2 linked regions of the Homo sapiens genome follow. The protein of the gene in region 1 purifies or fractionates together with the protein of each later gene. This does not show direct contact. Each region holds a gene or a part of one and is shown on either strand. Other genes may lie near its edges.

Region 1 (3,816 bases):
GCGTCGTGGCATGCGCCTATGGTCCCAGCTACTTGGGAGGCTGAGACACGAGAATTGCTTGAGCCCTAGAGGCAGAGGTTGCAGTGAGCCGAGATCGTGCCACTGCACTCCAGCCTGGGTGACAGAGCTAGCTAGAGTCTGTTTTTAAAAAAAAAAAAAAAAAAAAAGGCCAGCGTGGTGGCTCACGCCTATAATCCCAGTACTTTGGGAGGCCGAGGCGGGCGGATCACAAGGTCAAGAGATGGAGACCATCCTGGCCAACGTGGTGAAACCCCGTCTCTACTAAAAATACAAAAATTAGCTGGGCGTGGCGGCATGCACCTGTAGTCCCAGCTACTCAGGAGGCTGAGGCAGGAGAATCACTTGAACCTGGGAGGCAGAGGCGGCAGTGAGCAAAGAAAAGGAAAAAAAAAAGGAGAACCAGTAGCTTTAGGTGGGCGCTGAGAGCCCTGTTACTGGAGGTCTGCAGGTGACGGGACATCGTCTTCCAGGGAGGAGCCTTGGAAAGTCTGCTGGTTCCACTAGCTCAGGCTGGCCTGGGTTCTTGGCTGTGTGGTCTTGGGTGCATCACTGCACCTCTCTGAGTTTCAGTTCCTTGCCTGTAAAATGGGAGGCATAAGGACGGCCGTGAAACTAAAAGGAAGGCTCGGCACATTTTGTGCCCCATCATGAGCACCCCATCACAGGGGGGGCTTCTCCCTCTGATATTGAAGATTCTTTTTTTTTTTTTTTTTTTTTTTTTTTTTTTTTTTTGAGACGGAGTCTCACTCTGTCGCCCAGGCTGGAGTGCAGAGGCGCGATCTCGGCTCACTGCACGCTCCGCCTCCCGGGTTCATGCCATTTTCCTGCCTCAGCCTCCGGAGTAGCTGGGACTGACTCAGCCGAGTCAGGGGATCCAGGATCTCCCCACCATCCCTAGCCTGGAGCTCTCACTCCACACAGCATGTCCTGAGAACCCGCTGTACGTCTGACCCTGTTCTAGGCATGGGGGTTACAGCAGTGAACAAAGTTAAATCCTGCTTTGCTTTTCTGCTGGGGGTGGGGCAAGGCAGGGCGATGATGAAGAATTAAGTGACGTCAGGTAGTGCTGGCTGCTGTCAGGGGACCGAAGCCTGGGTTGGGTGAGGAGTGAGTTATCTCAGACTGGGGGGCTAGAGAAGGTGGGGGTCAGGGGCAGGGAGTGGTTGAGCAGAGATCTCAGGTGGATTATGGGGATTCTGGGGGAAGAACATTCCAGGCAGAGAGAAGAGCAAAGGTCCTGGGGTGGGGAGTGTGCCTAGGGGTTTGAGGAGCACAGCTGGCCTGGAATCAGTACTTCCTGATTGATGGAAACATCGAAATCTCTCGAGGCTTGTGGACAACTCCCCCTTGCACGCTTTCCTCTGACAGGGGCAGAAAACCCAGTAGACTGGCTCAGTGCATGTCCCGCCCCTGCCATGGTCCCAGCCCTTTGGAGGGAAGCCGGGGAGGAGAGAGCCTCTGTCTTCTCATCTGTAAGATGAGGCTGACAGCACCAGCTGTGTGGGGTTGATATAAGATTCGAGGAACATCAAATGTCAGACACAAAGGAGCATTGGATAAGGGGTATATGACTGTCTTAGAGGCCAGGAGACTGAAGCCCAGAGGAGTTAGGTAATGTGCCTGATGTCACACAGCTCAGCATTCAATCCCAGGACCCTTCCCCGCACCATCTATGCCCTGCAGTAAGGGCTCATTGTGCTGGAAATCCAAAAAGTTAACTTACCGAACGGTAGTTCCATGGTGAAGGTATAATCCTCCCATTTTACAGACAAGGAACTGAGGCCCAGGGAGCTCCATGACAAGGGAGCTCCAAGGAGCTCTAGGCAGTGAAAAGACTGGTGTTCAGACCCCCGGCTTGAGTCTCTTCCCCGGGGGGTGGCAGGCTTTGTCCCTGAGGGCAGAGTTCCTGTCCTGGTGCTAGGGTTCCAGCAGCAAGGGGTGAGGCAGCTGCCTACCTGAGAGATCTGGCTGGGCCCCAGGAGTCCTTGGTCCTCCTAATCCTCAGTAATGGCAATGACACGGATGGTGACAATGACACCTCCGGGAGCCTTGGCCAGCCTGGCTCAGGGAAGAGCCTGTGCCAGGGCTTATGAGCTGCTGCAAATGAGATTTCCCTGGCCGAGCCTCACGTCCCTGCTCCTGGGAGGCCAGGACACAGACTGCGCTTCCCCCCACCTGCTCCTGGAGCTGACGGGTGTCCCTGCAAGAGTGTGGCCACACAAGCGGGAGCCTGGGGTGGTGTGTTTGTGGGGCCTCCTGCCCTGGACTGAGCGTGTGTGTCTCTGTCATGTCTGGGATTTCGGGGGAACTCTGGAGCTGGGTGGTACTCACCTTGCCACACGGGGAGAAACAGGCTCGGAGAGGGCCTGCAGCTTACCTGGGTCTCAGAGCTGGTTGGGCCTGCATCTTCCCTGCTGACCTCCGCTGCCTGCGTCCCCAGCTGGCCTCGCTCTGTTCACCCTCTCACCCAGCCTGGGGAGTTAGCCCAACCCCCCTCAACCCCTCCCACACGCCGCAGTGCAGTGGGGGCTCTCCCCGGGTCCGGGGTCCAGACGCTCCCCTGACAGGGAAGCTTGGGAGTCAGCCTATAGCGGGGGGCTGAGAGGATGTGACCCGGAGGTTCAGCAAGCCTGAGTCCAGGGGAACCCTGATCTTGGGTGATGAGGGTTGTGAAGAAATAACTATAAAACCCCCATTAACAACAGCGGCTGTCATTCACAGAGGCCAGGCGCTGTGCCAGGCTTGCCCTCCGAGGGGGGGCAGGGGTGGGACTGAGCCAGGACTCCTTGTCTTCTCAGTTCTGAGTCCAGAGAGGGGCCCGGGACCTAGGAGCACCCGGGCGGAAAGGGCACAAACCCAGCGGGATCACTGGGCAGCTGACTAACCGGAGAGGGGAGGCATTTGCTGAGAGTGACTTTGGGGTCTGTGGTCCTGCCCAGCTCTGAACTGAGACCCCTGCACCACCAGCTCTGCCCTCAGAGCAGCAAGTGCTGTGAGGTCTCACTGACTCTCCTCTCTGCCCATGAATGTCCCCATGAGAGGGGACGTCCTACAGCATGCAGCCTGCAGACCGGGAGCCCCCGATAACAGCATGCACCCTGGCTGTGCAGCTGTTTCTTCTGTGGTGGAAGGAGAGAGTGCCCCTTAAAGAGAGCTGGTGGTGGGGCACTTGGGGCCTGAAGGGAGAAAAGCTCTAGGGGAGGGGTCCAGTCAGGCCAGGGCACGGGAGCCCTGCTCTTTGCTGGAACATGCCACCCCCCAATGCCTGCTTGCCTGCATGGCTGCACCCCTCCTGGGCTGTGCCACCGGGCTCTGGGCAGAAGAGGCCTCTGCGCCCCACAGCTGCTTCCACTGCTCCCCTCTCCCTCTGGGCTGGTCACAGGCTGCATTCTCGTGGTTCAGCCAGACCAGGTGTCAATTGTCTCCCGGGCCTCTGGGCTGCGGGAGGGAAGCAGGTGCCCGTGTCCCCTGCGCCCCCCATCTATCATCTAGATAGCTCACTGCCGTCGGTGCCTCTGTCTCAGACGCGCTTTCTCCTTTTCTCTCCTCCTCTGTCTGTCTGCTCGGCTGTCTTGATATTTTTGCTTTTCCACCATTCTCAGTCCTCACCTCCTCCCTGCAGCACCCCCTTCTTCCCGTCTCTCACCACCTGGGTATGTGGGGTGCTGCCCTGTCCCCCCTGCTGTGTGTGTGGGAGGACCACCCTCATGGGAGTAGGGGAGGGGCATGACCTTGGCCATGTGACCGCTGGACCCTTAGCCTCAGACCTGAGAGGACAGGCTGCTGCCCCCACCC
Region 2 (3,816 bases), on another chromosome or scaffold:
TTAATAGCTTGGGAAAAATCTTAAAAAAAAAAAAAAAAACACAGTTTTTGAACCTGGCCATGTCACTGAGTCTAGTACATGACAAACCTAGGAAGTTGGTAGCAGAACACAGGGTCAAAATAAAATACAAGAAATCACTGTAGCCTGATAATCTGCAAGACACACCAAGCAGACAAGTGGTAAGACAGTGGGAAGTGTGCACACATTTAAAGCAACAATTCTGAAATGTGTCCATGTGGTGAAGTGTGCACCTACCTGGAAGCCATGAGCACCCTGCAGAACACCTGAAACATTGATAAGTGTAAATCTGTAATAGAAACTGAGAACATCAGAGCTAAATGACAACTTAGGAACACAAAGGAGGAGACAGCAGACACTGGGGGAGGGTAGCAAGAGAGAGAGGAGCAGAAAGATAACTGTTGGGTACTGGGCTTAATTGGGTCCTGGGTGATGTAATAATATGTATGACAAACCCTCGTGGCAGGTGTTTAACTGTGTAACGGACCTTCACATGTACCCCCAAACCTAAAATAAAAATTTAAAAAAGAAAAACAACCTAAGAACAATTTTATACCTATCATGTTATTTAAAAGTTAGATATACCATATAAAATTTTAATTCCAAATGTGCTTTGGACATTTGTGTGTGCAACAACAAAAACAAGCCTAATAAACTGAGTTTGGGGGATTTAAAAAATATTTCTTCATCCAAAGGGAATATTTACCTGCTATTTTGGTGGCAGGCACTAAAAATTAAAGTAGTTTCTGGGAGCAAAATTCAAAATTGAGAAATTTTCTTCATTTGATTTTTTTTCTGTCAGTGAAAATTAGTTTATTTTAGTGATAGACTGTATATTCCATGAAAGAGTGGTATAAGAGTGCTATAAAAAGCCTGGGATAAAGCAACAGTGAGCAAGAAAACAAACTGTTAATGAGTTTTAATGATAAAGAGTTTTTGCTGGCCTGAAAGTGTCTGCAAGGCAGTCATCGATTCCCTATAAGCGAGGTGGACCCTCCACTTGGAAGAAGGCATTTCACTGTACCTTACTTAGATGAGGATGCGGGGACAAAAGTTTACACCTCTCTTAATGAGTACAGCCTTATGGACACAAGACAGTCTGGATCATAACAGGCCACTAAGTAGGCTGTACAGTCAGATGCAGCAGGTTCTCAGGAGCCAGTCAGCCTTGCTGAGCACTGGTAGTGGTATCTACTGCAGTGGTACTCTGAAACAGCAGTACCAGAAGGTACTAGAGGGAGAAAGCAGAGGCAGAGAGTGTGCAAGGGCCACCATCAGAAATGATCCAGGCCTCTTGGACTGAATCCTAATAATTCATTCAGTCATTCAGTAAATGTTTGAATTCCTGCTATATCAGGCCCTGTTCTGATAGCTGGGAATATAGTCAACAGTAGACCTCATCCCTGCTTCCATGGAACACATATTGAGAGAGCTTATATTATAATTGGGCCCACAGATAAACCACTTCATTAAATACTAAGAGAAAGCTTCACTAAATTAGTCTATTATGCAAATAATTTTAAAGACAATTTAAGTTTTACTTCAAACATAATTCAGTCTGGGTTAATATTCGTATGCATTTGCATTCTCTGTCCACAGTAACTCCTGCCTTCAGGAGGCATTCTAGAAGGATTCAGCTCTTAAACTGTGTGCTGTGGTGGTTACCTACCTGTTCACAATGCTTTTGATGTTGTTCCAGTAAAAGAGTGATCTGTAGCGTTTTGTTTTCCTCAGTATTAAGCAGACATTAATTGTCTTCATTTCCATTGGCAGAGCTTTTATCTCAGTTATCAGGAGTGAGACGTTCTGCAGGAGGACAGCTTAATTCCTCTGGCCCTTCCGCTTCTCAGTTACAACAACTGCAGATGCAGCTGCAGCTAGAACGGCAGCATGCCCAGGCAGCACGGCAACAACTGGAGACCGCACGCAACGCAACCCGGCGTACTAACACAAGCAGTGTCACCACTACAATCACACAATCCACAGCAACAACCAACATAGCTAATACAGAAAGCAGTCAGCAGACTCTACAGAATTCCCAGTTTCTTTTAACAAGGTAGCTCATTTGTTAATAGAATTTTGTTTGGGAAGTAATATTTTATTGCCACTACAGTCTGGAATTATCTTTTCTCTTTTGTGCATTATATTTCTTTAAAATTTTGTGTTTGATTAAAACTCACAGATCTCTGATTAAAACGCATATTCAGTATTTCCCCAAGAATGTGAAACATAGTAATTATTTTAGATAAATTAAGAATACTGGGCCAGACCCAGTGGCTCACACCTGTAATCCCAGCACCTCACACCTGTAATCCCAGCACTTTGGGAGGCCAAGGCAAGCAGATCGCCAGAGCCCAGGAGTTCCAAACCACCCTGGGTAACATGATGAAATCTTATCTCTACAAAAATGAGCCAGGTGTGATGGTGCGCACCTGTAGTCCCCGCTACTCAGGAGGCTGAGGTGGGAGGATCGCTTGAGCCCTGGAGACAGAGGTTGCAGTAGCCAAGATTGCACCATGCACTCCAGCCTGGGTGACAAGAGTGAGACCCTGTCTCTAAAATAAAATAACTGGTCTTGTTCTCAAGGTATATATCATCATATAATATGAATTGTTTTGCCATAGTACCCATAAAACTTAAACACTATATCATTATATATATATGGTTCATATTAGGTGTATTTATCATAATTAACGTTGCTTGTTATTGCCAGTTTTAATCTGCTTTGAAATATTAAAAGTATAAGAAGGATTTCATAATACAGTGGCAGTTTTCTCCTGTGAATTTCTAAAAAAGCTAGATTTAAATTTTTATGGTTGGCACACAAAAGTAACTTAAAAAAATGGCTTCCTATGGTATAAATAATATTTAGTAAAACAGTAAACTACTCTACTAGATGGAGTTCTTGTTTGCTTCTGAAACTGTTAGCAACTGCATGTATTTGTCTGCCAAAACTTCACAGGCATTTTATGTGACTTTTAGGAATATAAAGAATTCTTAAAAGAGCAATGATGAGTGGAGACTTAGCCTCAACAGATAATGAACCTGGACTAATTGGGCTTTTAAGGGAGCAGAGAGGAACATAAAGGAAGAACTGTAAAATGAAGAATAAAGTTTGTGTAATACATGATTATTTCCAAAATGCAGTGTGTATGACAATTCATTGGGATGTTAGAGGAAAATATTATAATTTCTACTTATGTTTCTTTTATCTCATACTCTGTTAATACAGTGGTGCATGTGTATAGTTATAAATAACATATTGTGGGTGCAGAATAAAAAATGCTTGAAAATCCCTGGGCTAGAGCCCCAGCTTTGCCAATTACAAGTTTTGGACCTCAGGCAAGTCATTTCACTCCTCCAAACCTCAATTTTATCATCAGTATCCCAGAAGTTTTGCCTTTAGAGAGATAATTATTTTGAGGATTAAATGGAATACTGGTATGTGTATGGTCTGGCTCACTATCTGGCCTATAGTAAAGGTCCAATTAATGGTACTCGTTATCAACATTTGTTATGAAACCAAGAAAAACATTTTAAATGGGTAATTTACCTTTGAATTATCTCTGCAAGGTCAGTAACTGTGCCTGGTTATTACCAGATAATGCTGCTTTAATGTAAGAAAACCACAGAGCCACAGATGGAGCTACCTGCTGCCATGTAGCCTTCCCCATAGGGACTGACCAGCAGCAGGTCTATAACATACCAGATCTAAGTCCCTACCTCAAAAAGGAGATCTACTAGCGTGCATTTCTACTGAGAGTTCACAGAACTGTGGGTGGAATGTCTTGCCAGTGC

The links.
Region 2: the proteins of ELFN2 (region 1) and KCMF1 purify together in Homo sapiens (affinity purification with mass spectrometry; one large-scale study listed by BioGRID and IntAct). This does not show direct contact.

The regions. Positions count from the first base shown.
Region 1 is NC_000022.11:37,378,893-37,382,708, reverse strand, and holds part of ELFN2 (protein phosphatase 1 regulatory subunit 29 precursor), read left to right. Parts: intron 1-349; exon of another isoform or gene 350-599; intron 600-1,744; exon of another isoform or gene 1,745-1,840; intron 1,841-2,398; exon of another isoform or gene 2,399-2,477; intron 2,478-3,816. UniProt on the Homo sapiens protein: Inhibits phosphatase activity of protein phosphatase 1 (PP1) complexes.
Region 2 is NC_000002.12:85,047,575-85,051,390, forward strand, and holds part of KCMF1 (E3 ubiquitin-protein ligase KCMF1), read left to right. Parts: intron 1-1,791; coding exon 1,792-2,074; intron 2,075-3,816. UniProt on the Homo sapiens protein: E3 ubiquitin-protein ligase which accepts ubiquitin from an E2 ubiquitin-conjugating enzyme and then transfers it to targeted substrates, promoting their degradation by the proteasome.